Homo sapiens: one gene and its partners. The protein of the gene in region 5 purifies or fractionates together with the protein of the main gene of each other region. This does not show direct contact. Each region holds a gene or a part of one and is shown on either strand. Other genes may lie near its edges. The genes, in order: DAGLB, EMILIN2, DHRS7, PIGA, PCDHGB4, PTPRD and GRAMD1A.

What was found.
Region 1: the proteins of PCDHGB4 (region 5) and DAGLB purify together in Homo sapiens (affinity purification with mass spectrometry; 2 studies listed by BioGRID and IntAct, with this or other methods). This does not show direct contact.
Region 2: the proteins of PCDHGB4 (region 5) and EMILIN2 purify together in Homo sapiens (affinity purification with mass spectrometry; 2 studies listed by BioGRID and IntAct, with this or other methods). This does not show direct contact.
Region 3: the proteins of PCDHGB4 (region 5) and DHRS7 purify together in Homo sapiens (affinity purification with mass spectrometry; 2 studies listed by BioGRID and IntAct, with this or other methods). This does not show direct contact.
Region 4: the proteins of PCDHGB4 (region 5) and PIGA purify together in Homo sapiens (affinity purification with mass spectrometry; 2 studies listed by BioGRID and IntAct, with this or other methods). This does not show direct contact.
Region 6: the proteins of PCDHGB4 (region 5) and PTPRD purify together in Homo sapiens (affinity purification with mass spectrometry; 2 studies listed by BioGRID and IntAct, with this or other methods). This does not show direct contact.
Region 7: the proteins of PCDHGB4 (region 5) and GRAMD1A purify together in Homo sapiens (affinity purification with mass spectrometry; 2 studies listed by BioGRID and IntAct, with this or other methods). This does not show direct contact.

The regions. Positions count from the first base shown.
Region 1 is NC_000007.14:6,413,215-6,417,419, forward strand, and holds part of DAGLB (diacylglycerol lipase-beta), read right to left. Parts: intron 3,708-4,205; coding exon 3,627-3,707; intron 3,541-3,626; coding exon 3,413-3,540; intron 1-3,412.
Region 2 is NC_000018.10:2,895,089-2,899,293, forward strand, and holds part of EMILIN2 (EMILIN-2 precursor), read left to right. Parts: intron 1-793; coding exon of another isoform or gene 794-933; exon of another isoform or gene 934-1,102; intron 1,103-4,205. UniProt on the Homo sapiens protein: May be responsible for anchoring smooth muscle cells to elastic fibers, and may be involved not only in the formation of the elastic fiber, but also in the processes that regulate vessel assembly. Has cell adhesive capacity.
Region 3 is NC_000014.9:60,145,800-60,148,894, forward strand, and holds part of DHRS7 (dehydrogenase/reductase SDR family member 7 isoform 1 precursor), read right to left. Parts: intron 2,423-3,095; exon of another isoform or gene 1-2,422. UniProt on the Homo sapiens protein: NADPH-dependent oxidoreductase which catalyzes the reduction of a variety of compounds bearing carbonyl groups including steroids, retinoids and xenobiotics.
Region 4 is NC_000023.11:15,321,978-15,325,966, forward strand, and holds part of PIGA (phosphatidylinositol N-acetylglucosaminyltransferase subunit A), read right to left. Parts: coding exon 3,937-3,989; intron 3,176-3,936; coding exon 3,043-3,175; intron 2,895-3,042; coding exon 2,688-2,894; intron 1-2,687. UniProt on the Homo sapiens protein: Catalytic subunit of the glycosylphosphatidylinositol-N-acetylglucosaminyltransferase (GPI-GnT) complex that catalyzes the transfer of N-acetylglucosamine from UDP-N-acetylglucosamine to phosphatidylinositol and participates in the first step of GPI biosynthesis.
Region 5 is NC_000005.10:141,491,985-141,496,189, reverse strand, and holds part of PCDHGB4 (protocadherin gamma-B4 isoform 1 precursor), read right to left. Parts: intron 1,384-4,205; coding exon 1,325-1,383; intron 1-1,324. Other genes in the region: PCDHGC5 (protocadherin gamma-C5 isoform 1 precursor), read right to left, coding at 1,325-1,383; PCDHGC4 (protocadherin gamma-C4 isoform 1 precursor), read right to left, coding at 1,325-1,383; PCDHGC3 (protocadherin gamma-C3 isoform 1 precursor), read right to left, coding at 1,325-1,383; PCDHGA12 (protocadherin gamma-A12 isoform 1 precursor), read right to left, coding at 1,325-1,383; PCDHGA11 (protocadherin gamma-A11 isoform 1 precursor), read right to left, coding at 1,325-1,383; PCDHGB7 (protocadherin gamma-B7 isoform 1 precursor), read right to left, coding at 1,325-1,383; PCDHGA10 (protocadherin gamma-A10 isoform 1 precursor), read right to left, coding at 1,325-1,383; PCDHGB6 (protocadherin gamma-B6 isoform 1 precursor), read right to left, coding at 1,325-1,383; PCDHGA9 (protocadherin gamma-A9 isoform 1 precursor), read right to left, coding at 1,325-1,383; PCDHGB5 (protocadherin gamma-B5 isoform 1 precursor), read right to left, coding at 1,325-1,383; and 11 more. UniProt on the Homo sapiens protein: Potential calcium-dependent cell-adhesion protein. May be involved in the establishment and maintenance of specific neuronal connections in the brain.
Region 6 is NC_000009.12:10,602,468-10,606,672, forward strand, and holds part of PTPRD (receptor-type tyrosine-protein phosphatase delta isoform 1 precursor), read right to left. Parts: intron 1-4,205.
Region 7 is NC_000019.10:35,020,521-35,024,725, reverse strand, and holds part of GRAMD1A (protein Aster-A), read right to left. Parts: intron 3,225-4,205; coding exon 3,121-3,224; intron 3,036-3,120; coding exon 2,862-3,035; intron 2,776-2,861; coding exon 2,688-2,775; intron 1,827-2,687; coding exon 1,815-1,826; intron 1,491-1,814; coding exon 1,383-1,490; intron 1,300-1,382; coding exon 1,179-1,299; intron 1,030-1,178; coding exon of another isoform or gene 985-1,029; exon of another isoform or gene 941-984; intron 1-940. UniProt on the Homo sapiens protein: Cholesterol transporter that mediates non-vesicular transport of cholesterol from the plasma membrane (PM) to the endoplasmic reticulum (ER).

The DNA of each region.
Region 1 (4,205 bases), on a different chromosome or scaffold from region 5:
AAGCCACAATATGTGTTCAACAGAGACGCCCCGCAGCTAAAACCGCAAACTGGACACCAAGGCGGACCAAGCACATGGATCTGTCCTTTGACCCAGAAACCGCGCTTGGAAGACTCCATCAAAGATGCACTGGAGGCCGGGTGCAGTGGCTCACGCCTGTAATCCCAGCACTTTGGGAGGCCGAGGCAGGCGGATCACAAGGTCAGGAGATTGAAACCATCCTGGCTAACACGGTAAAAGCCCGTCTCTACTAAAAATACAAAAAATTAGCCAGGCGTGGTGGTGGGCGCCTGTAGTCCCAGCTACTCAGGAGGCTGAGGTAGGAGAATGGCATGAACCCGGGAGGCGGAGCTGGCAGTGAACTGAGATCGCGCCACTGCACTCCAGCCTGGGCGACAGAGCGAGACTCCATCTCAAAAGAAAAAAAAAAAAAAAAGATGCCCCAGCAAAAATGAAGGGGCAGAGGCAACAGGCGATTCACTGCGGCAGAACCTGCACCGGCAGAGGCTGGAGCCTCCAAACACCCATCCACAGAACTGCCTTCAGCTCCCAACAACGAGTCACATAATAGTGCGTCCCGCACAGCTGGGAGAAGGAGGAGGACTGTGTGTGCCACTGCGGGGTCATCTCAGGACATGCGGTGAAAGTGAACAGCCACGACCAGAGACAGAAGAGCAGGGAAAAGGTGCAGGCTTTCATCAACAGGAGGAGAGGAACACAGACACGCTTCCTTCCAGCCATGGACATAATGGAAACACCAGTCAAAACCACCACATTCTACCTCTGGGGTGACAGAAAGGACTTTTTTGTTTTTGAGATGGAGTCTCGCTCTGTCTCCCAGGCTGGAGTGCAGCGGCACAATCTCAGCTCACTGCAACCTCCATCTCCCAGGTTCACGCCATTCTCCTGCCTCAGCCTCCCAAGCAGCTGGGACTACAGGCGCCCACCACCACGCCCAGCTAATTTTTTGTATTTTTAGTAGAGATAGGGTTTCACCGTGTTAGCCAGGATGGTCTTGATCTCCTGACCTCATGATCTGCCGGCCTTGGCCTCCCAAAGTGCTGGGATTACAGGTGTGAGCCACCACACCCGGCCAATTTTTTTTTTTTTTCTTTTGAGACGGAGTGTAGCTCTGTCACCCAGACTGGAGTGCAGTGGCACGATCTCGGCTCACGGCAACCTCTTCATCCTGGGTTCAGGCAATCCTACTGCCTCAGCCTCCCGGGTAGCTGGGACCACAGGCACACGTCACCACGTCCAGCTAATTTTTGTAAGGAACCGGGTCTATGTTGCCCAGGCTGGTCTCGATCTCCTGGGCTCAAGTGATCCTCCTGCCTCAGCCTCCCAAAGCGCTGGGGTTACAGGTGTGACCCAACATGCCCAGCCTCCTGATGTTTAAGTATCACTATACACTACAGTTACATTTTCTCTTTGGTGTAACAAAAGCCTTTCCTACCTCTTTCCAATGAAAAGGCCTGGAAATTATGACCAGCCCTGTGGTAATGAGAACTACCAGTGCCCCGATTTCAGTTCAGAAATACCATTTCCTGCTAAAAGGAACCAATATTCCTTGGAGAAACGGTTGATTCCAGATATGGACGATGGAAAAAAAAAATACTTGCTCATTTCAAGCCCAAAACTTGAGAATATTCTTGAGAAAGCAAGAAAATGAGGCCAGGCACAGTGCTCAACACCTTTAATCCTAGCACTTTGGGAGGGTGAGGCAGGAGGATCACTTGAGCCCAGGAGTTCAAGACCAGCCTGGGCAACATAGCAAGACCCTGTTCCTTACAAAAATTAGCTGGATGTGGTGGTGTGCGCCTATGGTCCCAGCTACTTGGGAGGCTGAGGCCGGAAGATCACCTGAGCACAGGAGGCAGAGGCTACAGCAAGCCATGACTGTGCTGCTGCACTCCAGCTGGGGAGACTGAGTGACACTCTGTGTCAATTAAAAAAAAAAAAAAGACAGCAAGAAAACAGACGACTGAAATTTAAGTTTTAAAAAATTAATGTCTGCCTCTGTAGACTGCTAGGCAACAATTCATTATTCTGAACACTTCTTTATTGAGGGAAAGATTTAAGCACTTATACATTCTCCTGTTTTTTCCTGTGTGAACTATATGTCAAAGAAACCAAGTGTGCGAAGAAAAGCTCTTTTTGTTCTTTACGTACATACTTTTTAATCATCCCAAAGGGCCGGGATTACAGGCATGAGCCACCACGCCTGGCCTTTATTTCATTTTAATGAAATAAAGTGGTATAATTTTCCTTTATAATCATGGCAAAAGGTTACACAGAACAGTCAGTATGCTGGAATCAGCAAAAAAAAATATAAACTTTTCAGCCAGGCGTGGTGGCTCATGCCTGTAATCCCACCATTTTGGGAGGCCAAGGTGGCGGATCATGAGGTCAGAAGACAGGAGATCGAGACCATCCTGGCTAACACGGTGAAACCCGTCTCTACTAAAAAAATACAAAAAATTAGCCGGGTGTGGTGGCGGGCGCCTGTAGTCCCAGCTACTCGGGAGGCTGAGGCAGGAGAATCGCTTGAAGCTGGGAGACGGAGGTTGCAGTGAGCCGAGATCACGCCACTGCACTCCAGCCTGGGCGACAGAGCAAGACTCCGTCTCAAAAAAAAAAAAAAAAGTAATTTTCAAACTCATAAAAATGTCTTTAAACATGTGCATTATGCATGTGTCCCCACCCAGGGCATATGCCCCCCGAGAGGGCGGAGGGAGTGCTCAGCATACTACGGGCTCTGGGCGATGTGCCTACCAGGCGCATGGATGTCAACAACCGGACCCCTCTGCCAGGGCTGTGAGAATGGGGGAGGTTGTGCTTGCTTGTGGGGAGGGAGGGTATGAGAGATCCCTACAATCTGCTGCTCAGTTTTGCTGTCAGCCTAAAACTGCTCTAAAAAATAAAGTCTGTTTGAAAAAAGACTCTTAGAATTAAATCATTGAGGAAATTACAGGTATGGTCACATAGGTCTAAGAAAGGCTAGACAGACTTTCTTCTGTGAAATAGCGCTTCAAAACACAAACCTCAGCTGGGTGCGGTGGCTCACGCCTGTAATCCCTGCACTTTGGGAGGCCGAGGCGGGCAGATCACTTGAGGTCAGGAGATCAAGACCAGCCTGGCCAACATGGTGAAACCCCACCACTACTAAAAATACAAAAATTAGCCGGCATGCTGGCGGGTGTCTGTAGTCCCAGCAACTCGGGAGGCTGAGGCAGAAGAACCGCCTGAACCTGGGAGGTGGAGCTTGCAGTGAGCCGAGATCACGCCACTGCACTCCAGCCTGGGCGACAGAGCAAGACTTCATCTCAGGAAAATAAAAGAAAAAAAAGATGAGTCTTGACCACATGACTTGTAAGTAGCAAGCTGTTAGAGCAGGAAAACAAAGGCTCACCTCCACAGCCCCCGGGGTGGGGAGAAGGCGTAGCACCTGACCTGCGGGTAGGCGGCTCTGAGCATGGTGGCCAGCAGGGCGGCCGCCCCGCCCCCGAGGCTGTGGCCCACTATGACCAGCCGGTACTCCTAGAGGACAGACAGCAGAATGAGGTGAAGGGTAAAAACAACAGCTCCAAAGAGGACAAGGAAAGAAACGTTAACTAAGATCTCACAGGAGCAATGCTGAAGGCTTGGCTCAAAATCCCGTCGTTGATGAGTCGTTGGTAAACGTATCTGGCAGCTTGAGAAATACCCTAAAAACACAGACAAAGAAGGTGGCCGTTAATCCTCAGACAAGGCAGGCCCAGCAGAGACTCAAAGATGGGATGACGCTGTGCACTGATGTGTGAGTCTCTCCTGGGATCTGAGACTGCAGAATCAGCAGCCACGTCCATCGTGCATGGCTGTGCTCCTGGCACCTTGCACAGCGCCTGACGTGAAGCAGGTGCCAGGTGTGGTGGCGCACGCTTGTAATCCCAGCACTTAGGGAGGCCAAGGCAGGAGGACACTTGAGCCCAGGAGTTCAAGACCAGCCTGGGCGACATAGTCTCTACTAAAATAAAAATACAAGACCAGCCTGGATCCTGACTCTACTAAAAAAAAAAAAATTAACGGGGCTTGGTGGCGAGCGCCTATAGTCCAGCTACTCGGGAGGCTGAGGTGGGAGGGTCGCTGGAACACATGAAGTTCAGGCTGCAGTGAGTTATCGTCGCACCACTGGGCAGCAGAGTGAGACCCTGTCTCAAAAAACA
Region 2 (4,205 bases), on a different chromosome or scaffold from region 5:
AGGTAATGGCTGTGTGGGGGAGTATGTGGATAAAAGTCTGATGGGGAAACAAGCAGACAGATGGTCACAGGAATGGGGTGTGGTGTGCATGAGCCACCTTGAGTGTTCAGAGAAGCACCCACAGTGGAAGTCAGGGAGGGATTCTCAGGAGAGAGCCCTGAGCTGAGCCCTCAGTGTAGGTATTTACCGAGCAGAGTACAGAGGCTGATGGGGTGAGGAATAAGGTGAGATGAGAGAAGCTTCCAGGAGGAGGTGTTACTGGATCTGATTGAGGGATGGGTGGGATTCAGAAAGCAGGAGGGGAGGACATTGTGGATTAGCTATTTATTGCTTTATAACAACCCATTCCAAATCTTGCTGGCTTAAAACAACAAAGATGTATTAGTTTCCATTATTCTGTAGGTCAGGAACCCCGGCAGGGCTTGGCTCAGCGGTTCTTCTGCTCTATGTGGCATCAGCTTGAGTCGCCCACTCAGCTGCATTCAGCTTGCGGTTGACTGGAAGGTCTGTGAAGACTCAGTCATATGTCTGGTGCCTCGGTGCTCCTCCACCTGGCCCCTCTCTCCATGTGGCCAACCTGGGCTTCCTCACAGCATGGCGGTGTCAAGTAGTCAGACTATGGCGACTGTCAAGGGAAAGTGGAAGCTGCTGGGCCTCCCACAGGCTAGCCCAGAGCTGGAGTGGCATCACTGCCACATTCTATTGTCAAAGCAGGTCTGCTCTTGAAGGGTGACGTGGCTGGTATGTTTGGGGAGGGAAGGGGGATTAATGGTGGTCATGATATCTACCACAGTGAGCACAGATCCAGAGGTGAAGATGTGTGATGGTTTTGGACCAGTAAGCAGATCGCCAGACCGGGAACACACACTGTGGTGTTTCTACTCAGCCTGTTGCCCTCTTCACAGATCCTGTTTCCTTTGGAAGCATCACTGAGGTGAGGCTGAATTATCCAAGAAGCAGCCAACAGGGGAGAAGAAGGGCCTTCAGCTGATGCTTAAATAGATCTAAGTCTCTTTTATATCCTTCTGTTAAGGGCATATATATATATAGCATATGTATATATTGCATATATATAATGAATAAATAAATATATATAATTGTTTTTGAGATGGAGTCTCCCTTTGTTGCTGGGGCTGGAGTGCAGTGGCGTGATCTTGGCTCACTGCAACCTCCGCCTCCCGGGTTCAAGCGATTCTCCTGCCTCAGCCTCCCAAGTAGCTGGGATTACAGGTGTCTGCCACCACATCCAGCTAATTTTTGTATTTTTAGTAGAGACAAGGTTTCACCATGTTAGTCAGGCTGGTCTCGAACTCCTGACCTCAGGTGATCCACCCATCTCAGCCTCCCAAAGTGCTGGGATTACAAGCATGAGACATTGCACCCGGTCAGATATATATATATTTGAGACAGGATCTTGCTCTGTCACCCAGGCTAGAGTACAGTGGTGCAATCACAGCTAACTGCAGCCTCAACTTTCCTAGGTTCAGGTGATCCTCCCACCTCAGCCACCCAGGTAGCTAGTACTACTGGCACGTGCCATCGCACCCAGCTAATTTTTTGTTATTTATTTATTTATTTTTTTAGAGATGGGTTTCACCATGTTGCCCAGGCTGGTCTCAAACTCTTGGACTCCAGTGATTCGCCTGCCTCAGCCTGGGATTCAGGCATGTGCTGTAATTACATGTGCTGGGAATTACGGGCATGAGCCAGTGCACCTGGACAATTTTTTTTTTGGAGATGGGGGTCGGGAGACAAAAGGTCCACAAGTCTGGGCACAGTGGCTTACGCCTGTAATCCCAGCACTTTGCGAGGCTCAGACGGGTGTATCGCTTGAGCCCAAGAGTTCGAGACCAGCCTGGGCAACACAGGGAGTCCCTGTCCCTACAAAAAATACAAAAAAATATATACTTTTGAGAAAATGGTCCAGGCAGAGGGAACAGCATTCTCAAAGGCTATGAGGAAGTTCTTTTGAAAAACCCAGAATAGTGGTATGGCCAAGCGTATAAGCAAGGCAGAAGGTCATCAGCAATGAGGTCAAAGCGAGGGTAGGAATGAGATCAGGCAGGCTTTCTAGGCTGTGATAAAGGAGTTGGATTTTAAGTACCGTGAGAAACTATTGAAGGATTTTGAGCTGGGGAGTGATTACTTCCGTTGAAATCCCTGCTCATCCATGCTTGTAAACAGTGGAGGATTAACTAATGTCCTGGACTTAGTAATCACTCAGGAAAATTACCTATTACTTAAACCCTCCATACCCTAGAATGGATGTTTAATCTATTCATGACTGAACTTTTCTCCCTTTCTCTACCTATAAACCCCCAGGCCTCCAGCCTTGGAAGAGAGAGGGCCTGTAAACACAGCAGACACAGGGTGAAGGGCCCTGGTGGCTCCGGTGATGCTGTAGGTGGCCACAGGTTTTTTTGTTTTTCTTGCTTTCCCTTTTTCTTGTTTTTAAAATTAGCGTTCAAATAGACAGTATAAAAAGCCTTAGAAATGGCTGGGCGCGGTGGCTCATGCCTGTAATCCCAACACTTTGGGAGGCCAAGGCAGCAGGATCACTTGAGCACAGGCGTTCAAGACCAGCCTGGGCAACACAGTGAGATCCTGTCTGTACAAATTAAACATTAGCTGGGTGTGGTGATGTGCACCTGTGATTCCACCTACTTGAGAGGCTGAGGCAGGAGGACCCCTTGAGCCCAGGAGTCTGAGGCTGCAGTGAGCTATGATCACACCACTGCACTCCAGCCTGAGCAGTACAGCATAATCCTGTCTCTTTAAAAAAAAAAAAAAAGCCTAGAGATCTCCCTTTTCAGCATTCACAGCTTCATGTATCTCGTGTATCGATAGTTTTTTTGAGCAGAATCTCATCACTTATGAACAAATTAGGTTATAAATGGAAAGGAGGCTCGAGGCCCTTTATTCCCTATGCAGTGTAGCCACGGAGTTGAGCCCTCCTTCCCAGATGGACTCGCTCCCATTTTCACAGGTGCGGGGAGCATCAGGCCTTCACACTCTCTCAGCAGGCATCCTCTTTTGTTCCTTTTTCCCAAGTTGCCCAGCCTTACCCCCACTCGAGTCTGAGTGACCCATGAGTGATTCATAGGGAATTACTCACAGGTATCCCCACAAGTGGGGGTGTGTCCTGGCCACAGGGTCTGCCTCCCAGGCACTGGGTGACCAGCAGAGGCTGACTCCCTGCCTGGGACCCAGGACTAGCCCGGCCTGCAGCCCAGTGGCAGCAGCATGTGGAGAATGGGGCAGCCCGCCCTCCCCAGCTGGCTTTAGCTTCCCCTGGCCCCACACACAGGTTGAGCCTCAGCTGGACCCTGCCTTCCCACTGTTCCTCTCCCGGTAGAGGAAGGAAGGGGTGCTGGTGGCGAGCAGGAAGGGAAGGCAGAGGGACGTAGCTGTGTGCAGGGGACTTCTCTTTCCAGATGTCACGCTTCCAAGTAGAGACAGATGTCTCTTAGATCTCAGCACACTAGAGATAATGGCATCACTTCCTTTTTCTGCTCTCCCACCCCTTTCTGCTCATGTCTCTGAGTAATTTTCATCATAGCGTTTCTTTTAGGAGTGCTGCAGGTTTAAGCGTACTATTTTTATTGAGTTAAGCTATAAGAATGAAAAAGCACAGCCTTGTCAAATAACTATTTAACCAGAAAGCCTGGCCAGGGCACTGCCTGATGCCAACATTCTGACCCCTTTGCCCCAACTCAAAATCAGCTGAGTTTGGGGAGAGTTTAGGCCCAAGGTAGCATGATGGACTTAGAGTTTTATAAACATATAAAGGCTCAATAAATTGCTTATATTCAGGCCATAGGGAACTCCTGACAACTCGCCCCCTTTATCCTGTAGGCACCAGGTTTCTACGATGCCCTTTGGTTCGTGTAAACCGCAGCTGCTCTACTGCATCTTAGCCTTGAACTTAGAGCTGCAGTGTTCGGAGAATGGAGCTTTCCCAGAGCTGCATGCATAAATGCCTCTGGGATCTTTAAAAAAAACAAAAACAAAAAACTCCTCGGCTCACTCAGGAGATCGCTGCTCAGCAGCAGGGATGAGGTGAGGGCCAGGAATTTGTAATTAAATTTATAACTAAAAAAAACCGCTAGCTCTAGTCCTGGAAATTGAAGGCTACCCCAGAGGCAGAGGGATCTACCCACCCCAGGTAAGCTGTGCCCAAAAAGAAAGAGGAGGTGGGGGGGAGG
Region 3 (3,095 bases), on a different chromosome or scaffold from region 5:
TTCAAAACTTTGCACTAAGAAAGACAAAATAATAATAATGATAATACAAAATTCAGTGTAGCCACTGTTCTTGATCCCTAAAAATAATAAAGATTCATAAAAACAAAGTTCCAGACATACAGACTAAAGAAGCAAATTCTAGTTAACAAGTACTATTAGCTTGAAATAAGCTATGCTAGCATTTTCTTAACTTAGACGCTTATCAATAAGAAAATTTATATATATACATATATATAAAATATAAAATAGTGGGAGAGAGGAAGAGTACAGACTATAAAGAATGAGGTATTATGTCCTAAAAATTGCTTTGAGAAATGACAGAATGCCCAGCTTATAATAAAGAGTGACAAAGTAGTAAGACTATATAATAAGCAATATTTCAAAGATGGTGGTAGGAAGAAAAAGGCTGTCATTTTTTTAGAAAAACCTAGATGTAAAAAAAATGCGAGATTTGCTAAATGATGTTTATATTTTACAGTTAGATATTCTCTAAACAAAACAAAATATCCTTCATATGGACATTTCTGGAAGTACTACTACAGTGGGACTGAAATTCTCTAGTCCCTGGTCCCTCTTTCCCCTTTGAAAAAAAAATCACTTCTATAATATATTCTTTCTCTGCCCTATTATTTAAATTGAGAATGTGAACCAGTACAGACATTATGGAAAATACGGAAATTCCTCAAAAAATTAAAAATAGAATTACCATCTGATCCAGCAATTCCACTTAAGGGTATAAATCTAAAGGAAGTGAAATCAGTACCTTGAAGTGATACCTACACTCCCATGTTCATTTTAGCATTATTCATAATAGCCAAGATATGGAAACAACCTAAGTGTCCATTAGTGAATGAATGGATAAAGAAAATGTGTGTGTGTGTCTGTGTGTGTATATATATATATGGAATATTATTCCACAATGGAATATTTTTCAGCCATAAAACAATGGAACTCCTGGCATTTGTGAAAACATGGATAATGAATGGACGTTAATGCTAAGTGATATAAGCAAGATACAGAAAAACAAGTACTATGTGATTTCACTTCTGTGGAATCTAAAAAGTCATACTCAAAAGCAGAGTAGAATGATGGTTGCCAGGAGCCAGAAGATGGAGGAAATGGGGAGATCTTGGTCAAAAGGTACACATTTTGGCCAGGCACAGTGGCTCACACCTATGATCCCAACACTTTGGGAGGCCAAGGTAGGTGGATCGCCTGAGCCCAGGAGTTTGAGACTAGCCTGGGCAACGTGGCAAAAACCCGTCTCTACAAAAACTACAAAACCTAGCCAGGCATGGTGGTGTGCGCCTATAGTCTCAGCTACTCAGGAGGCTGGGGTGGGAGGATTGCTTGAGCCTGGGAGGTAGAGATGGGAGTGAGCCATGATCACGCCACTGCAGACTCCAGCCTGGGTGACAGGGCGAGACCCTGTCTCAAAGAAAAAAAATGGTAGATATTTTCAGTTATAAGATAAATAACTTATGTTATTATAATTTACAGATTCTAAGGATCTAATATACCGCATGGTGACTACAGTTAATAATACTGTATAGCATATTTGAAATTTGCTAAGAAGATTTTAAGTGTTCTCACCACACACAAAAAAAGGTAACTGGGTGACATGTATTAATTAGCTTGATTGTGGTAATCATTTTACAGTGTATATTAGATCATCACAATGTATACCTTAAATATATATAATTTTTATGTGTCAATTATAAAGAAAATCTTTGATCATTAAGGAAGCTGAATATCCTGCTATATCTAACTCAAGCTGAGAAGGGGGAAAAAGCACAATAGCTAACACTTAGAACACTCCAAGTTGTGTTTTAAGTGCTTTTCATATATTAAATTCATGTAATTCCCATAACAATCCTGTGACTGGGCACTATTATCATCATTAATCTCCATCTTATATTAATAGATGGGGAGACTGAGTGATAGAGAAGTAACTTGCTTTAAGGGCATGGGGCAGAGCTGGGATTTGAACCCAGGTAGCCTAGCACCAGGCTGCATGCTCTGCCAGGAGGCTGTGCTTCCTCTGTAGTAAGGTGGCCTGTCCCTCTCAACTCTTTCCATCACTGGGCACAAAGCTACTGCATCAGCTGTCCTCCATATTTAAAACTCAGGTATACTCTTTGATGAAACTCTACCTTTAGAGCTTCTACCCACACTACCAAGTCCCAACAATACCAAAACACTCATAAGGGATCTGGCCCAAAGCAAACTGTTCCACATTACTACTTGGTAGAAAACGAAAAGCTCCTTTTTGATTTTTCACACTCTGGACATTTTAGTGTGTCATGACCCAGTCTGATAACCTTTTATGTCTCTTAAGCATTTTGTTGTGTTTGTAACTTTTTACCCCCTAATTCATTTTCACTGTCCTGCAAAGAGTTGGAATAAATTAAATGTCTAACAATTAGTGGATTGCTTAAATTTTTGCAGGTATATATAGTATGATCTTGTTTTATAATTCTTTTTTTATCTGTCAATCCCCATTGATTAATTTCTAAAAGAAGGTGGTAACAAAGTATATCAAAGGCTAACAGTAAAAACCATCCTCAGCAATAATCTTTTGCTGCATAATCATCTATAATTTTTGGTTTACTTCATTACATTTCCTGTACTGTCTATAAATTAAATTCTTTTGAGGGTCACAATTTCTCAGAAATGGTTAATAGTATTCCCTGACTAATTGCTATAAAGAATGAGTGCTGAAAGAATGATAATCAGCATATTTCCTTAGACAGGGGAATAGGCACATCTTAGATGTGCTGAGTACTTCGGGAATGAGGTAAAACTGCATGCATCTGTTTTAACAACACAGTAAGTGCTTTGACAGGAAAGCATAGGGGCTGAGGTGCACTTGGTCCTGGGGAGAAGTGGGAGGGAAGGCCAGGTACCATTCCAAGGAGGTGACATGGGAGTTGAGACTGGTAGGATGGGTAGGAGTTGGTGGGGAGAAACAGTAGGGAAAGAGCATTTTGACACACACACTGGTCAAACAATATGTATAGAAGAAAAACATGGCAATCTTTGATTTGATTTTACCTTGTAAGAAACTTCTCTCTCCAAGACTAGTAATAATTTAT
Region 4 (3,989 bases), on a different chromosome or scaffold from region 5:
GTACTTATTCTGGGCAAGACACCGGGCTAGAGGCTGTGTGATACAAAGAATAAGCCACAGTTCCTCTCCCCTAGGGAGTCACCATCAATTTTAGCCAACTACTAGAATTCCAAAGTCCCGCAAAGTCTGAACAGCTTTTGGGGTCACCACTGTAGGGTCAATATTTAATTCAGCAGTGACTTCAGCAGTACTGAAGCAGGATTTGCCTTTGAAGATTCCTTGACTAAGCTGAGATGCTCTCACCGGCATCTGGCAGACATCAACCACAAGCAGAGAGCTACAATCTAGCATACTTCTGGGAACACAGAGCCTCCTCTTTCAACAGCCACATGAGGCTGTACATGTTGCTGAGCATGGATGGTGAGGACATGCAGAAGCATTTCATGGATTTCAAATAAAAGAAGATAAAGAGATGGGGGAAATTTCAGTAGATAGTATAGGTCAAATGCTGGCAAATGAAATAACGTTTTTTGCTGAGCAAGTAGGTGGCTTGCTTTTTAAAACACTGCTAAGTACTAAGCTCTAAAATATCAAAAAACGAAGATCTTTAAACATACTTGTTCAGAACACATCAAATGGGCCAACATTCATATTTTGTAATTTGAGTATTACTTGTGCTTAGTCTCATATATTAGACCTTTAAACCGTCTCCTTTTGAACTCAAGGAAGTTATAACATGCAGTGCATGTTGTACAGGTCAACAGCCCTTGAAAGGTACGGCATGTTTTCATCGAGCTCTTTTACCCTGAGGACATTCTGAATACAAACATTTTAATCAGAATTATGTTGAGAATTATGCTGAGACTGGTGAATTGCAATTGAAGAAGTATGTTTACAGCATGAACTCCAAATTAATTTCATGATCGATTTCCTAAATAGCACAGTTAAACTAAGAAGGAGGAGTTGAAATGAATTAAAATGTCATAGGGTTAAAAGAGTAACTACAAACTGACTTTTTTGTCCAGCTTTATTTCAGGTCAATTAATCTACTTATAGTTTTAAGTGATAAAATAACAATTTACTATTATGAAGAGAATGTTAGCGATGACAATCCATTATAGGCAAGGATTTACTTTTTTCTAAAAGTGTATTATAAATCACCATAGAATTAAAAAAAATACAGATGCTGTACTATTACTTTAACCAAAAGAAAAATGTGGTTACCAAAAAAATCCCAATTAGCCCCTTTACTATATGCTGACAAACCGTCACCACAGTTCTTTCCCTGTTAACTTATTACCTACAGTGGCTCAGGCTTCTGGGGTTTATACGATGTCAATGAAGAAGGTCAAGTCACAACTTAACAGTGCCATGGTTCTCAAAGGGAGTGGAGATCAGGATGGTATCATCAAAATAACCTGTCTGACCAAATATCCCTGCCAATTATACCCCCAATTCTATCTCTGCTCCTAAAGGATAACACTGGAATCTAGGGAGTGGTTGGGGAGGCAGGGGGACATCAAGATGGAGTAGAGAGAGTCTGAAAAGGCTGCCCGGGGACTCTGACATGTACTCCCAACAGGTAAGCACTAGACTCCAACTTTCCATGTTTCATATGGGAGAGATAGTACAAGACTTGTAGAAGGTCAGAATGTCTCAAAATGCTTCAGTCAAAAATGTTTGACTGTCGCAAACATCTCATGTTTCAATGGAAAATGTATAAGACAATTTTTAGAGATAAGTTTTTAGAACTTCCATTCACATATGAGTTCATCTTATATACTGGAATTCATCATTCAAACCAAGTAAGAAAGCCTTACAGTAAAGAGCTATTCTCCTCAGCTCCAACTTGCTATCTACTCTAGGCTAAAAACTCATTGCTCCACTGAATATCACGTTGGTAGCATTACTCTAAACTACTACCTTCTCCATGTTCCACCTGGTTATCTTTCTGGTTCACAATTTCTACATACTAAGAAGCTGAGTTGTTTCTGTTCAGCTTGTTACATGGTAATAAGAGGCATGAGGCAGAGAACATCATGAAAAGGACGTAAAGGATGAAACTGAGAATGAAAGCAGTCCCTAATTCAAATTCAGGAAGCATTTCCCACAACTGTAATCTCCTACCTAAGGGTGTTAATCTATTTCCTATACCTGTCCTTTTGGAAATTCTCTGTTGCTGCTTTTTATTTGTGATTTTTCCCACGTTTGTCACGTACATTTTGAATTCTAACTTACTATGTTCTCAATCAGCCCAAAGATGCAAAAATCCTTTTCCTGGAGAAAATCACAGTAGTTAGCAAAAGGGCTACAAGAGGTTTAGGAAGTAGCCTGAATTAAATATTCACAAGTTATAAAGTTGCTGCAATCAGCAAAACCATGCATTTCCTAATAGAGATGTTTGCTTTAGAATTATCAACAGCTTCAAGAAAATATCTAAGAGTAGATTTAATACTCGTCTTGTCTCTACTCATTGTGACTTTTAGAAAATTTTGTAACTTCTTTATGCCCAGTTTAATGAGGGGGCTAGACTGTATTACTGCTATTTTCAAATGTCAAACGCAATAATTTGACCAGACACTTAGCCCGGTGTGTGTACCAAAATCTGTTTCTTTTCACCTGGAAGAGATTTCATCAACTTAAGCAATAGAACAAAAATGGTAAACATCTATGTAAGAAAAAGCAAATGTGTACGTGAAACATCAAGTAAGAGTTCAGACACAATCTTTTCTCAGCATGTGACATACCTTTTCAGTTCTTTCTGCAACATTCCTCCAGGTGTAGAAAGTCTTTACTATGTTATGGATGTTTTCTGGAGCTGGCAATGTCCCTGACTTCAGTTGGAAAATAGCCTTTTCCAATCCTTCACACAAAGATTTTACTGAAGGCTCACATAAAATAATAAGGTTTTCTGGAAGCACCTCAGGAATTCCACCAACTCTGGTACTTACAACCTTAAAAAGAAAGAAAGAACACATACTCCACCATAATCATACCTCAGGAAGATCAACAAAACCAGTTAAAACATTATTATGGAATGTGTCTCATTATTTTTCAAAATACACAGAAATCCCAACCATGAATGCCCTCAAAGCTTTTTACCTGTAAACCACAACTGGCTGCTTCCACGATCGCCATGCAGAATGCTTCAGTAAGGGAGGTATTCAGAAAAATATGTCCTTGAACTAAGACATTTCTAACATCCTTGTGTTCTAAAGCTCCCAAAAGACGCACCCTGATTTTTTAAATGAGAGGGGAAGAAAGGAGTGAAAACTCATGCTACAAAAGAAATTTAATTTATAAACCAAGTCTGCTATTTATATTACACTTAAATTCTTATTGCTGCTAATGTTCTCCACCTCAAGATTAGTATCACCAAACACTGATCTAATAGAAACAGCCTTATAAAGCAGTTGGGTTAAAACTCATACAGCGAACATTATTTCTAACTTTTGTTACACATATCAAACTTTATCTTCTCCAAAACTAGTCTGTATGTAATAATATTAATAAACTTTGATAATTTAATGTTAAAGTGCCATTTGTAAACAGGAAAATGGCCTTTTTATTAAAATTGATGCTTTACACGTACAAGCCTTGTGTTGTGTAAGTTACTGAGGAAGAGACTTGTCCAAATCTGTATGTGCAGAGCAATTTACATGATTTGAGCCCTATTACTTAAATCACTACACAGTATGGCCTGGAAATCTGCAAACGCTTCCAGTTAAAGCAGCTGTTTTTTGTGCCTTTCATGGTGCCTCCAACAATGGCCCCCCAAAGTCAAATAATATTGGGCTAATGGAAAAAATAGTGAATTAACTAGGTTTCCTATTTATATAAAAATTTTGAAAACAGTCCTTGCATTAGATTTATATCAATTATATGTATATCAATTACATGCAGGAGAAGCAACACACCTAAGGTACGCATGCAGTTAAAACCAAATAGAGATAATTGACATCTTCTCCCTCAAGACAACATGAAATTCATCAATACCTGTCATGCAGCTGGTATCTTTCCCGAACTTCTTCCAAAATGATTCTCTTTGG
Region 5 (4,205 bases):
CAGCTGGGGCTGCTTGGATGGGAGGGTGTCTGGTGGAGAGCTGCGATCAAAGGCTCAGTGTGTGAGGGGCAGGGAAGGAAGAGAGCGGGGTGTTGGTGGGTGGTGGGTGGGGGGTTGTGTGTGCTGGCTTGCCCACAAGCACAAAAAAATGAGAGACAGAGACAGAGGCTCAGAGAAAAAAGACAAGATAAAAGAAAAAGAGAGATAAAGAAAGAGTAACAGAGAAAGAGGCAGAAAAAGACAACAGGCACAGAGACCAGAGACAGAGACAAAGAAAGATATACAGAGACAGAGACAAAGAGAGACAAAGAACAGAGAGGAAAGCAGAAATAGTGAGAGACAGAGAAACATAGAGGCTGGGGATAGAAGAACACAAGGCGCTAGGAAACGGTGAAAGGAGAAACAGAAAAGAGGTCCAGGACAAGGACAGGGAGGCAGAGATAGAGAAGGAGAAAGAGACTAAGGGTCCCGTGTAGTTACTCACTCCACATTTATTGAGCACTTATGCCATGGCAGGCACAGTGGGCGGCACAGATCAATGCAAGTAGACAAATGAAAGGGACTGAGGCTGAGGTGCAGCAATCAAGACGGAAGCTAAGACAGAGATGGAGAAGAGAGGGAGAGGCAGAGATTGCAAAGCGAGATAGAGACTGAGGGAAGGACTGAGAGGTAAGAGAAAGTGGCAAAGACGGAAACTCAAGAAAAAGGGGCAGAGACACGGAGACCCCACAGACAGAGAGCAGGACAAGTAGGGGCAGAGGACAGTGGGAGGAGGGGCCGGAGAAGGGGGCCTGCTCCATGCCCCGCCCAGTCCTTCCTCAGTTCCACCTCCAGCTGTGCTGCCTCCACTCTCCCCAGGCTGCAGTCAGCCTCGGCTCTGGAGGCTCTGGAGGAGGCGCTGAGTGCGGACCGCCTCCTCCGGTCAAATGCTTTTCTGCCTGAGCCCCAGGTCATAATGGAGCCCAGCTCAACTCAGGGGAGGGGGTTAGGCAGTACATGGGCATAGAAAGCCTCGCTTTCACCCAGAGACCAGCTTAAGACCATCCTTTGGTTCCACAGTGCCCTCAGGGGATAGGAAAAGGTGCCGGTCGTGGCGAGGAGGGAAGGGGCAAGCATGTGAATTGAGCTTCCTGAACAGTCAGGGCAGTCGCCTCTTCCTTCCGGGGTCTGTGTGCCAGCCCCCCGCACACCAAGACCTCCCTGGGATCTCAAACTGAGGGAGAAGCCATCTGTAGCAAATGCTGGGCCCTCCCCCATCTCCTCCCACGTCATCCCTGAGAAAATGCCGCAGAGAAGAGGGTGGGCTGGAGAATCAGTCACCTACCCGCTGGTGCCGGGTCTCTGGGCCTGAGAGAAACGCCAGTCCGTGTTGGGCGGGGCTTGCTGTGGAGAAAACAGAGGGAAAGGGGCTGAGTACCCGTGAGAAGTTAGAATGTCACCCGAGCCCCTAGGGATGGGCCGGGAGAGAAGGAGGGGAGTGGGCACAGAGAAGAAAACGGACTAAGAGGGGGCAGGGGTGGACTCATCTCCAAAGACAAAATACACCTCAGGTCTCAGAGGTCTGAGGTACCAGAAACCAAGAGATAAATCACATTTCATCTGACCACAGTGAGCAAGCTGAGACTCCTTTCCTAAAGAAATGGCCCCTTCCTCCCTGCCCCCAGAGTCAGAACTCCTGAGCCAAAATTCAAGGACTGAAGGCATCTTCTGTGGAACTGGGGGAAGAGGTGCAGACAAAGCCCCCTAAAGTGGCAAAGGAGGCTTTTCAATGAGAATTCTACCAGCCCTAGAATGAATTTATTCAACTCCTCAGCTGGGAACAAAGCATCCTCTGCAGCAAGATGGCTGCTGTTCTTGGTAACCCTTTTGGTGCCAGGTTGTGCAGTGACACATTCACAGGGACATCTTCTCTGGGCCCTTGGCTTGCAAGAATCTCTTCCCACAGCTAAATACATTATTAATTTAGGAGTCATGCCAGATTGGGCCTTTGCGGGGCATCCAAGTCCCGGGACACTTCTCACCCCTAGAACTCCGTGCCAGACAATGGTCTGTGACTAAGGAGAAGAGAACAAGGCTGCTCTGTCTGAGACGGAGAAAAATGGAAGGGATGCAGCGGGGAGGGATCCAGCTCCCACAGCCTCCAAGCAGGGCCAACTAAGTCTCCAGGGCTCCCAAGGGGCTGATGTGTAGCCATCTCCCACCTAGCTGAAGGTGTGGGGCTCTGGCCAGCCACTTCATTCCTGAGTCCCTTCTGGTCTTTCCAGGGGGTGTGTTATCCCATCACACACTCTCATGGAGCACTCCTAGAGCCACCTCCTCACTGGTTCTGGGGTGGGCTGGTAATTAATACTCATACTTGCTCCCAGAAGCAGAGAGTGTGAGTATCTCAGATTACTCCAGGGAGAAGGAAGCTCCGGAACTGCCAGTGGCTCACTCAAGGCTCACAGGTGGCAGTGATATGAGCAGAACCCAGAAACCTAGCATTCCAGGTGTATCGGGAGTCACCAGCACCATTCTGGGGCTGCCATGGAGAAGGGCACAGGGATGGCCAGCCCTCAGCCACTGTATTCTTAGACACAGCAGAATCTACATGGAAATGCAGTGATTGTGATAGGAGGAAACGGAGCTGGGGGAACTCAATCTCCAAAAGGATAACTGGCCAAGTTTGCGCTGCGGGGACTGCTCAGAAATGAGGAGCCACAGAAGACTTTCCCCACATGTAAGGTCCTAAAAGGGAAGGAACCCCACCCTTGCCCCATCCCAGCAGAAGCAAAATCCCAGCAGAGGCAACTCCCCTCTCCTGTCCTCAAGCTTTTAAAGTTCCAAGTGCCAAGAAATTAAAAGCACACATTCTGGAGTTAGACAGGGGTTAGAATCTCTCTTACTTGCTCTGTGAACTTGAGCAAGTCACTTGACCTCTGTGAAGCTGTTATAAGAGAGGCATGTTAGTACCTAGCCAACAGCAATGGTGGGAAGAGCAAATGAGATGAGGTTCTCAAAGGAGTTATATAGTAAGTTTCTCTCAATCAGCTATCAAAATCACCTGGGGGTGTTTCAAAATACAGTCCTAGGAGCAGAGTTAGGCATTGATATATTTTGAATAAAAGCTCCTGGAGTTGGAGAAACTTGTGTTTTTTACTATTGTAGTTTCCTCACACATAAGGGCACCCTGGCATCTGGCAGAGCCTATAGCTTTCCATCTGCCAGAGGAGACAGGACTTGTTAGAGTGTCAGATAGTTTGGTCACCTCCAAATCTCTGACCCTAGATCGCTGGGCACATTGTGATCACGACGGCGCCAAAAGCCTGTATCTCTGGGGGTTGAGAGCCAGGGCGCTCGAGGCTTTCACTTCCTGCGGGAGGAAGGGGCCGCTGGTGCCACTGGAGTCCCAGTCCTGCTGTCCTATAGAGGCTCACTCACTCGCCCAACGCGGAGCCCTGCCGCGCCTCGGCCACTGGGCAGCTCTGCCTGTCCGCCTGCTCGAGGCTTCTGGGTTGAGGGGTCGCCGACCCTTGAGACGGAGTCCCGGGACCATCCGGACCTCTGGCCCAAGGATCGTAGAGTCCTGCCCGCCCGGCACTTAGAGCGGCAGTCGCTCCAGCGCTCCTGGCCCCGCGCCTCGCTCAGGCCGCCCCCCAGGCGACCCGGCCCAGCCCGGGGCGCAGGTGGGAGAGGTGAGAGGAGGCTCCGGAGTCCTCGCCTGGTCCTGGGCGGCCGCGATCTGGGACCCTCAGGCGCGCACAATCAGCTACGAGTACTCCTGAGCCCGGCGGAGGGAGCGGCAGAGGGGAGCTGCGAGTGGACCGGAACAGGCCTGTGAATCTGGCCGCGAGCGAGTGGCAGTGAAAGCTGGTATTCGCGTAAGCCCACGTGCGAGGAGTGCGTGCGTGCGTCCGCGCACGTGTTGGCGGGGCGTGGCGAGCCCGTGCAACTTGTGTGGGCCGTGGGGGTGGCCAGCAGGGAGGACACGCATGAGCCCCGCGCGCACACCTAAGTCCCGCAGACAGGTGCGGTTGGGTGATGCGGGGATAGGGAGGGTAACAGTGAAGTCACAGATGCTGGGAGCTGGGGAGAAATCGAAGAGGAAATCTACAGACCGGCGAAGCGTGCCGGAGCCGGCGCCTAGGAGGCTGGCTGCAGGGGTGGATCTGTGACTGCCTCCTCCCGGGACCCCCGACACCCGCGGAAATCGCCCGAAATTCACC
Region 6 (4,205 bases), on a different chromosome or scaffold from region 5:
CAGGTAATCTGAAGATTAAACCATGAGTTATGTTGTAACTCTGTGTCAGGTGAGCAGCCATGCTAGATATAAGAACAGTGATCAACGTATGAGAAAGACAAATAAGAAAATAAAAGTAATTTACGGTTATAATCAAGTAAAATTTCAACAAATTTAATACAATGTGACGCAGTGGTGTAAATAAGAGACAGAATAGATGGCAATGAGGCATAGGTAATACATAGTTCACCACAAATAATTGTAATTAAAATGACTCTTAGAAGGCCAATTTTTGGTTTTCTGCTTCCTACTCATTTCTTTGCTGATTATAATCAGTATCCTTACATTTTATCTTGCATCAGTTAATCACAACAGTCTCATTTCATTATTATGTGGGGCATGCATTAAAATACTCTGAATTATAGTAACTGGCAGATGGGACCCTGTTGATCCTAAATGTCACTCCACTCCACCATGAGCTTATCTTCCCTACCTCCACGTTGCTATTCCACCATGCCTCTCATATGAGGTGAACTAACTCAAAACTCTTGGTTGGTTCAAAAATTGTGGCTTTTGGTCATGGATTATCAAGTACAACAAGGTGTTTAAGGAGCTGATATACCATAAAATCTGACGCCAAGAGGCTGTAGAGGTTAGAGTGGTAGGAACTGAATGAATTAATCTTCCCAGGAAAAGGGACCCGAGCTTGAAGGGCCACCCCAGGGAAAGGCAGAGAGCACAGCAGGTTCTCTTTCTGACAGATTGGAAATCCCAAAGGAAGAAAAAAATACACTCAGAAGCATTTGTGCCACGCTTAACTCTCAACTTTGGGAGGAGATACACTGGAGTTAGTTTTCCTTGATATGATTTGCCCTCTGCTTCTTTGTTCCCCTGGGCAGCACTTTTACAGTATCTGTCCTCCTGCATTCACATTTGTGATCATTTACTTATGATAACTTGTGCTCACTTCATTTGAAAGAATTTGTCTTATAAAAGCAGATCCACAATCTCACACTTTTTCTGCTTTTCATGTACAGAATCTAGATAACTGTAGCATTTACCTTCCGTACTAATATGCACATCTGGGAAAATACGTTATTAACTTTAGGCAACTTAACCTCTATGTGCTTTAGTTTTCTCATTTATAAATCAAAGATAATGATTGTACCAACTTCACAGGAATGATATGGGTATAAATAAGTTAATGCATGGAAAGCACTTAAAATAGTGACTGGCAGATATGAAGCAGTCAATAAGTGTTGGCTATTATTATTACCTTCTATCTGAAGATTTCTCAAGAACTCATGAGGCAGTATATAAGAGATAAAATTCAAGAAACCAAGAAGAATAAAAAGATCATAGTGACCTTGAAACCATCTCTGATTTAGAAACAAAAAAGTGTAATTACATACTTCTTTTAATCCCACTACAAGAAGTGATAAACTACATATGAGCTGCAGATTATTATATGGATGAGAAGGATGAATGAGTTGTAAGAGAAATGCACAATACAGACAATAGTATAATCTATTTAATAATGTTAATAACACACCCTTTAATTGTTCATAAGGCCAACATAGTCATTCCTGTGTGTCACCATAGCTCCCTATGAAGTTAAAAAACATAGGCAGAAGAGGGGAACTTGGCAATAGAAACAGAAATAGGAAGAGAACTGATGAGTAATGGAGGAAAGAAAAGCCTGCCATGGTGAGGACCATATATTCTGACCTATTCTGACCATATTCTGACCTAGCTTCTTCATCTCTGTATTCAGCAGCATTTGATTCACACCAAAGCATTCTTGAATATGGCCTGAAATTCCTTTCTCTTAAAATAGCTATCTATATCTGTATCTATAATACCATCAGAATATCTCTCAGAATGCACTGATGTAATACTTCAAAAAGCCAGTATGAATGTGTCTTAGTGAATGTGTAATTTGTTTTATTAAATCCTGGCATGTTTTCCAAGTGGGAGAGGTGTATGGGAAAATAGGAAGACTTCAAGCCCCTAAAAAAAATAAAAATAAAAAGGAAGGAATATCCTCCTGAGGGGCAGGAAAATGGGAGAATAAAGCACTAGACTTAATCCCTGAGACAATTATACTGCAAGAAAGCCTTGTTGCTTGCAACCACACAGGTATAAATGATGAGGCTAAGCTATTCTTTCAGAGCTAACCACATATGTTTCCTAGGAGAAAACAAATGGCTAGCACATATGACACACAATAAATACATCTATTCAGAGGAGTTGCCACTGGAATTCTTACACACTAAAATTATAAGCCATGGTCCATTGAAACAGGTACCATAGATAAGTGTTAATTGAGAACTAATTGAATGTATTATATAATAAAATAGGAAATTACAAATGGGAAATATTTTTTCTATACTTGTGATGCACATAATTTAGCTTTAAAATTTACAGGTATAAAAGTTTTTTGAAGGTGAAACAATATATCATCTTGGCACTGTTTTTCAAAAGTTCCTGCTGAGTAGTACTTTGATAAAGGTTTTCAGGGGGAATAAAAAAGGAAACTCTTCAAACTTAAGTCATAGATGTTTCCATGATTTTTTTTAAGAGAAATCAAGACGTGAACTTAGGGTAACTTATTAACTTCAGCAGTATCTAACAATCCCACTACATTTCTAAACATTTAAATTGCACTTTTGCCTTCCTCTTTGGTTATTTGATCCAAAGTACACATTATAAGTCCTCTTATAAGAATATCTCACCTCAAAAGGTACAGGAAGAATTTCCTCATTTTTCTCTGTCTATTCTCTTTCCTGAGAAAACCAAAGCACTTCTGCTATTATGCTTTGGTTATAGCTGAAAATAACATGAGTCTTGACTGTAACTGCTATTGTATTCTATGAATTTGGAAATATAAGGGACTGGTGCATAGACTGTAAACTGCTGCAGTGGTCTGGCGATTTATTTGTGTTTTTATATTGTGTCAATATTAGGATAGTACGGCGTATTTTTATCATGCTTTACTGCCTTTCTAGAACTTTGGAGAGTTGAACACACATAAGGAATTAGCACTGGAGTGAGAAGATGATGAAGGGTGCCAAGAAATTCCAGTGGAAAACAGCATAGACTGCAACTGCCTAATAAGCAACACAGCTTCCACCTAGGTTCTAAAAGCAATAGCTGTGACTCAGGATGACAGCAAAGGAGAAGGACAATAAGGTAAGTGTAGATACGTATCTGGAAATTTTTCTGTGATATAAAGGGAGAAATGCCTTAGGGAAGAGATTCCTTTTTCTCTATGGAATCAAAAATTTTATGATAACGTGGATACATTTTATAAGACCATAAGATGGTCACAATTGGGTAGTTTCAAATTGCTAGCACATGGCTGTTTTACTCAGCACTCCTTGACACATAGGAGACTCAATACATATTTGGGACTAGATAATATTATATGATTTATGCTGCCGTATTATGCATATTGCATAATCCTGACTAGTGATTCTGACTTGACAACATTTACAAGCTTGAAAATAGAAGAGGGTGCAACCTCTGCAAGTAGTTTGAAAATAGAAGAGGGTGCAACTTCTAAGAGTAGTGCATAATGTGAATATGGTACCTGAATTATTGTCCTATCCTTGATTTCTGTAGCAAAATCAAACAGGAATTACTATGGTTCATGAATAAACTGTCCTTCTCAATGGTTCCAGATGGTTATATTGTTATCAACAGCAAAAAAACGGAAAAGTGACAAGATAAAAGTGTGAGCCAGACTTCCCTAGAAATCTGATGACCACCTAACCCCAAGGTGAAAGATTTATCTTTCATCCTGATAACCATTTGGGTGAAGAATAAGAAATGAAATAATTCTGTCTCTAGCGTGAGATTAATGAGTCACTCCTTCTACCATTCTCTACCCCCTCCATCCTTTTCCACTGAGTAGAATTTCTAACTTTGATTATAAAGATTTGAGGCCAATTATTGGGAAAAAATCCCAAGGATGCTAGCTTATGTGAGTATTTTTCCTAAATTCTAAATACAGGTTTTTCGTAAGTGGCCTACACTGGTTCCACTTTAGAAACAGGAAACACTCCATTACTTCTTCTTTATTTTCTTTTTTTTTTTTTCTGTTTCTGTGCTCTAAATTAACCTTTCCTGGAACTTGAGATAAAATATGAGGTTTGGGTTATTTTCTATGTGGTATAAAGAAGCTATATCTAGGCCTTTATCTTAACTGAGCAAGGACTATTTAA
Region 7 (4,205 bases), on a different chromosome or scaffold from region 5:
TCCCCACCCCATCCTGCCCCGCCCTTTCCAGTGTGAGCCTCTCCCAAGCTTGATTTCGGGGGGCAATGAGACCCCTAAAGATGAGCCTTCTGATATGGAAGGGTCCAATGAGACAAGATTTTCACCGTCACCCACAACTTCAGCTCTGATGGCCTTGGAAATGCAGGCAATGCCAGACTCTGTTTCCCATCCGCTTTCCCCCTCGACACCTTCCCCGAGTGCCTAACACTTGCTCTGACCCACCACAACTGCTGGCCTGACACTTGCTCTGACCCACCGCAACTGCTGGCCTGACACTTGCTCTGACCCACCGCAACTGCTGGCCTGAGTCTACTGGGGCCTGAGGGAATTGTCGTGTGATGACATCACATTTATTGGGCATCTGCTTTGTCCCTGGCACTAGGCTCAAACTCAGGACAGCCAGCCCACATCCAGTGTTTCCTGCAGGCCTGGCACCACTCCCAATGTCAACTTGTCTCATCCTCACAACAGTCTTTGAGGTAGCATCAGTCATTATCCTGTGCACAGAGGAGTCCACGGCCACCATGGCAAAATCACTTGCACGAGGTCACACACCGGAATTGGAACCTGGTTGTCTGAGTAGACATTGTCCCTGAACTACACTGGGTGTCTGGGTCCACTCCGTTTTGGAGATGAGACCTCAGGTCCTTTGGAGAGTCTCTCCCCTTCAGACCATGTGACCCCTTAGTTACCCCAGAGTGGGGTAGCGGGTAGAGGGACCACACGTGGCCTGCCCTGGCTGTTGTGATGTGTCAGGGGTAGGCCTGGGACCCCAGCAGCCAATGAGAGTAAGCTCCGTGGTCCCCTGTGGGGGGAAAAGGGTGGCCTCCAATGAAGCCAACCCTGGAGATGGGCACAGGGCAGAGTGGGCACGAGAGACTGACTCTTACTGCCATTGAGTGACCAAACCCGGCCGTGCCTAATGTGAGACGCCTCTGGACTTTTCTCCAGGACGTGAGCCAATCAGTTCTGTCTTCCATCCATGCTTCCATGCTTTCCCCTGCAATGCTGTGGGGTGGGGACTCTGAGCGGCTTCCTCATTTTACAGAGGAGGACACTGAGATCCGGAGAGGGGAAGTGCCTGCCGCACGGTGGGGTTTCAACACAGGACCCTGCAGCCCCGCAGCCCCGAGCCCTGCCCGAGCGGCGCCTCCTACCTCATCCAGGAGCTCCACGGAGGCCCGCAGGATCTGCCTCCACTTGTGCACCTCCACGCTGTGGAATTGCTTCTGCAGCGCCAGGATCTCGGCCCACTCTGTGGCCGTCTGGGGGAACTTGCTGTGGGGATGCCAGGCCTGAGCAGGGCCTTGGCCTCCCCCGATGTGCCCAAGCCCCCCCATTTCCCCAGGCTACCCACTCACCCCTTGGCCAGGGCCAGGCTGTGCCAGGACTCAAAGGTGTGGGCTGTCCTTTCCAGGGACCAGAGGCGGTAGAAGAGCAGGACGTTGAGGGCGATGAGGATGATAAGGCTGGGGACAGGGGTCAGAGGTCAGGATTCCTGGGGTCTAGATGCTCTGAACACCCCCAAACAACTACATCTTGTAGGGACACCTCTATCCCCCATTGCAGAGGAGGAGAATTAGGCTCAGAGAGGATGAGAGACATGCCTAGGGTTGCACAGTCCATAGCAGGGAAGTCAGTGTTCAAACCCAGGTCTGTCTGATGCCCATACCCTTGACTGCCATGCCAGGCCACCTCCCTGGGGGAGCTGGGGGGCATGGGGTGGGGAGAAGAGGCTGCAGCAGGGGTGGGGTGCAGGGAGGGGAGGGCAGGGGGAGGACTCGGGACCCTACCTCACACAGATCCTGCAGCAGCAGCAGTGAGGGGAGACAGAGAGATGAGCGCCGCCTGGCCTGCCCCCGACACCCCCAGCCCTCCTCACCCGGGGCAGCTCTTGGCTGAGAGCACCACGCCCCCTCACTGGATGAGAGCTGAGAGCTGAGGCTCAGAGGCTGAGCATGTAGCTGGCCTGACCCTCACCTCGCAGGGTCTGCTCAACCCCGGGATCCTGCTTCTGTTTCCTCCCAGCGTCCTGCCCGCCAACTCCTGCAGGCTTCTGGGCAGGAGTGTGGGTTCTCCCTGCCCAAGCCCTTAGCCTACGCGGTCTCCACTCTCTCAGGACGCCCATCCTGACTGCCCCCTCTGGCCTGGGAGGAAGCCGCCGCTGGCCTCCCAGGGCTTCCCCACTCCCAGCCCCAACCCCTCTGCCCATACCTCCCCCATCCCAGCCCGGATCACTCTGGTCTGGTGTGAGGTCTATCTTTTCCTCAAGGTCACTGCGGTGTCCTCAGCATCGCCCAGCTTAGGAGTGGGCACAGAGAACATAATGTCCATAAATGACCTCACTTGTTAGGCACACCTCTCCCTGTGCACCTAATTCCAGAATCTTTGTGTGCCTGCTCCTCCAGAAAGCCCCCCTTGATCCTTGGGTGAGGTCAGGCCCCTCTGATCTCCCATAGCCCCCCCCGGCTCTGCTGTTCTAGCAGGGAAGGCTTCTCCATGACAAACCGGCACATCCCAAACATTGCCTTGTCTAATCCTTGCTGTGAGCAAACCCACGCTCCCACTTAAGCAGAGAGCTCAAAGAGGCCACACACTTGCCCAAGGTCACACAGCCAGGAGGCAGGTTCAGGCCTGTGTGGCCACTGCTCCTGTCTCTTACTCACACAATGCTGATGAGAACCAGGGCACTGGGGATGCCTGCCCCGGGGCCCTGGTCCACAGATGGTTCGGAGAAGCGGGAGCTGAGGGAGCCTGCAGGAGAGCAGCTTGGAGTCAGATGGCCCAGTCCAGGACCCCCGATCCTCCGCCTACCCCAACCCGGCCCCAACGGAACGTACCCGAGGTGTGAATGCCGGCCCGGGCACAGGGGTCAGGATCTGGGTGCTGGGGCCCGTCCCCGTGAGCCCGCCAGCTCAGGGGCCGCTTCCGCCGCCGCAGGCCGGATAGCAAGCCCCGGGCATCCTTCCCGCCTTCCTCCAGAGACAGCTTCTCAGCCTTGGCGAGCTCTCGCTCTGCGTAAAAGAGAGGGGGCTCTGGATGTCCATACCTGGCCAGGCCATCCCCCAACCCACGCCCCAGCCGGCCTTCTGTCCCTACCCAGATGGTGGAAATAGTCTTCAATGCCGCTCCACGAGTTCTTCTCAATGAGCGACTTCACCAGGCTCCACGGCTGCTTTCGGTAGCGGATCTCAGAAGACACTCTGGGGTTGGGAGATCAGGGGAAGGAGGTAAGGGTCTGACTCCAGCCCTGGCTGCCCCGTCCCACAAGCTGAGTTTTTTCCTTCCCCTAATTCAGAGAGGGCCCCTTGTCACTCACAGACAAAACAGATGGGTTCCCTACCCCCCATGGCTTCCCTGGATACCCCATACACCACCCGCCCAGCCCAAATGCCAGCCAACTCAGCCCTCGGTCCTTCTCCACCCATGCCCACTACCTGGGCAACGCTCCCGGCGGCCTGAGCCCTGTCTACTCACAGACTGACGTCTTAACCAGACCATGCCCCTGAACCTCTTCCATTCGGCTGCTGCACCCCAGCTCCACATGGGCTCAGCTCAACATAGACAGCTGAGTCCCAAACTGACCTCCTGGTCTTTCCCCAAACCCATTCCTCCCTGCCGCCCCCATCTGGGTCAAGGGCAGCTCCGAAGTTGTAGTGATTTGGGCCAAATGCCTCGGGATATTCCTTGAGCTCTCTTTCCCTCACCGCCACATCCAATCTCTCAGCAAATCCTGTCAGCTAAACCTGCAAAATCTCTCCAGAATCTAAACTCTTCCCCCTCCATTTCCTCACCCTGATTCAGCCTCCGTCCCCTCCAGCCTGGATGTCCCAGCAGCCTCCTCCCTGGCCTCCCTGCTCCTGTACCTGTCTTTGCAGTCTGTTCCCACCAGAACAGAGGGAGCCAGAAGGAGCCTGGGACCACCTGAGTCAGGTCAGCGCCCTCCTGGCTCAGAGCCCTGGCCTGGTTGCACCTCACTCCAGGTAAAGTCAAGTCTTCACCATGAGCCACATCTGGTTCACCTTTTTTTTTTTTTTTTTTTTTTTGAGACAGGGTCTTGCTCTGTCGCCCAGGCTGAAGTGCAACGGTGTGATCATGGCTCACTGAAATCTCCACCATGTCTGGCTAATTTTTTAACTTGTTTTTTGTTTGTTTGTTTGTTTGTTTGAGACAGAGTTTCACTC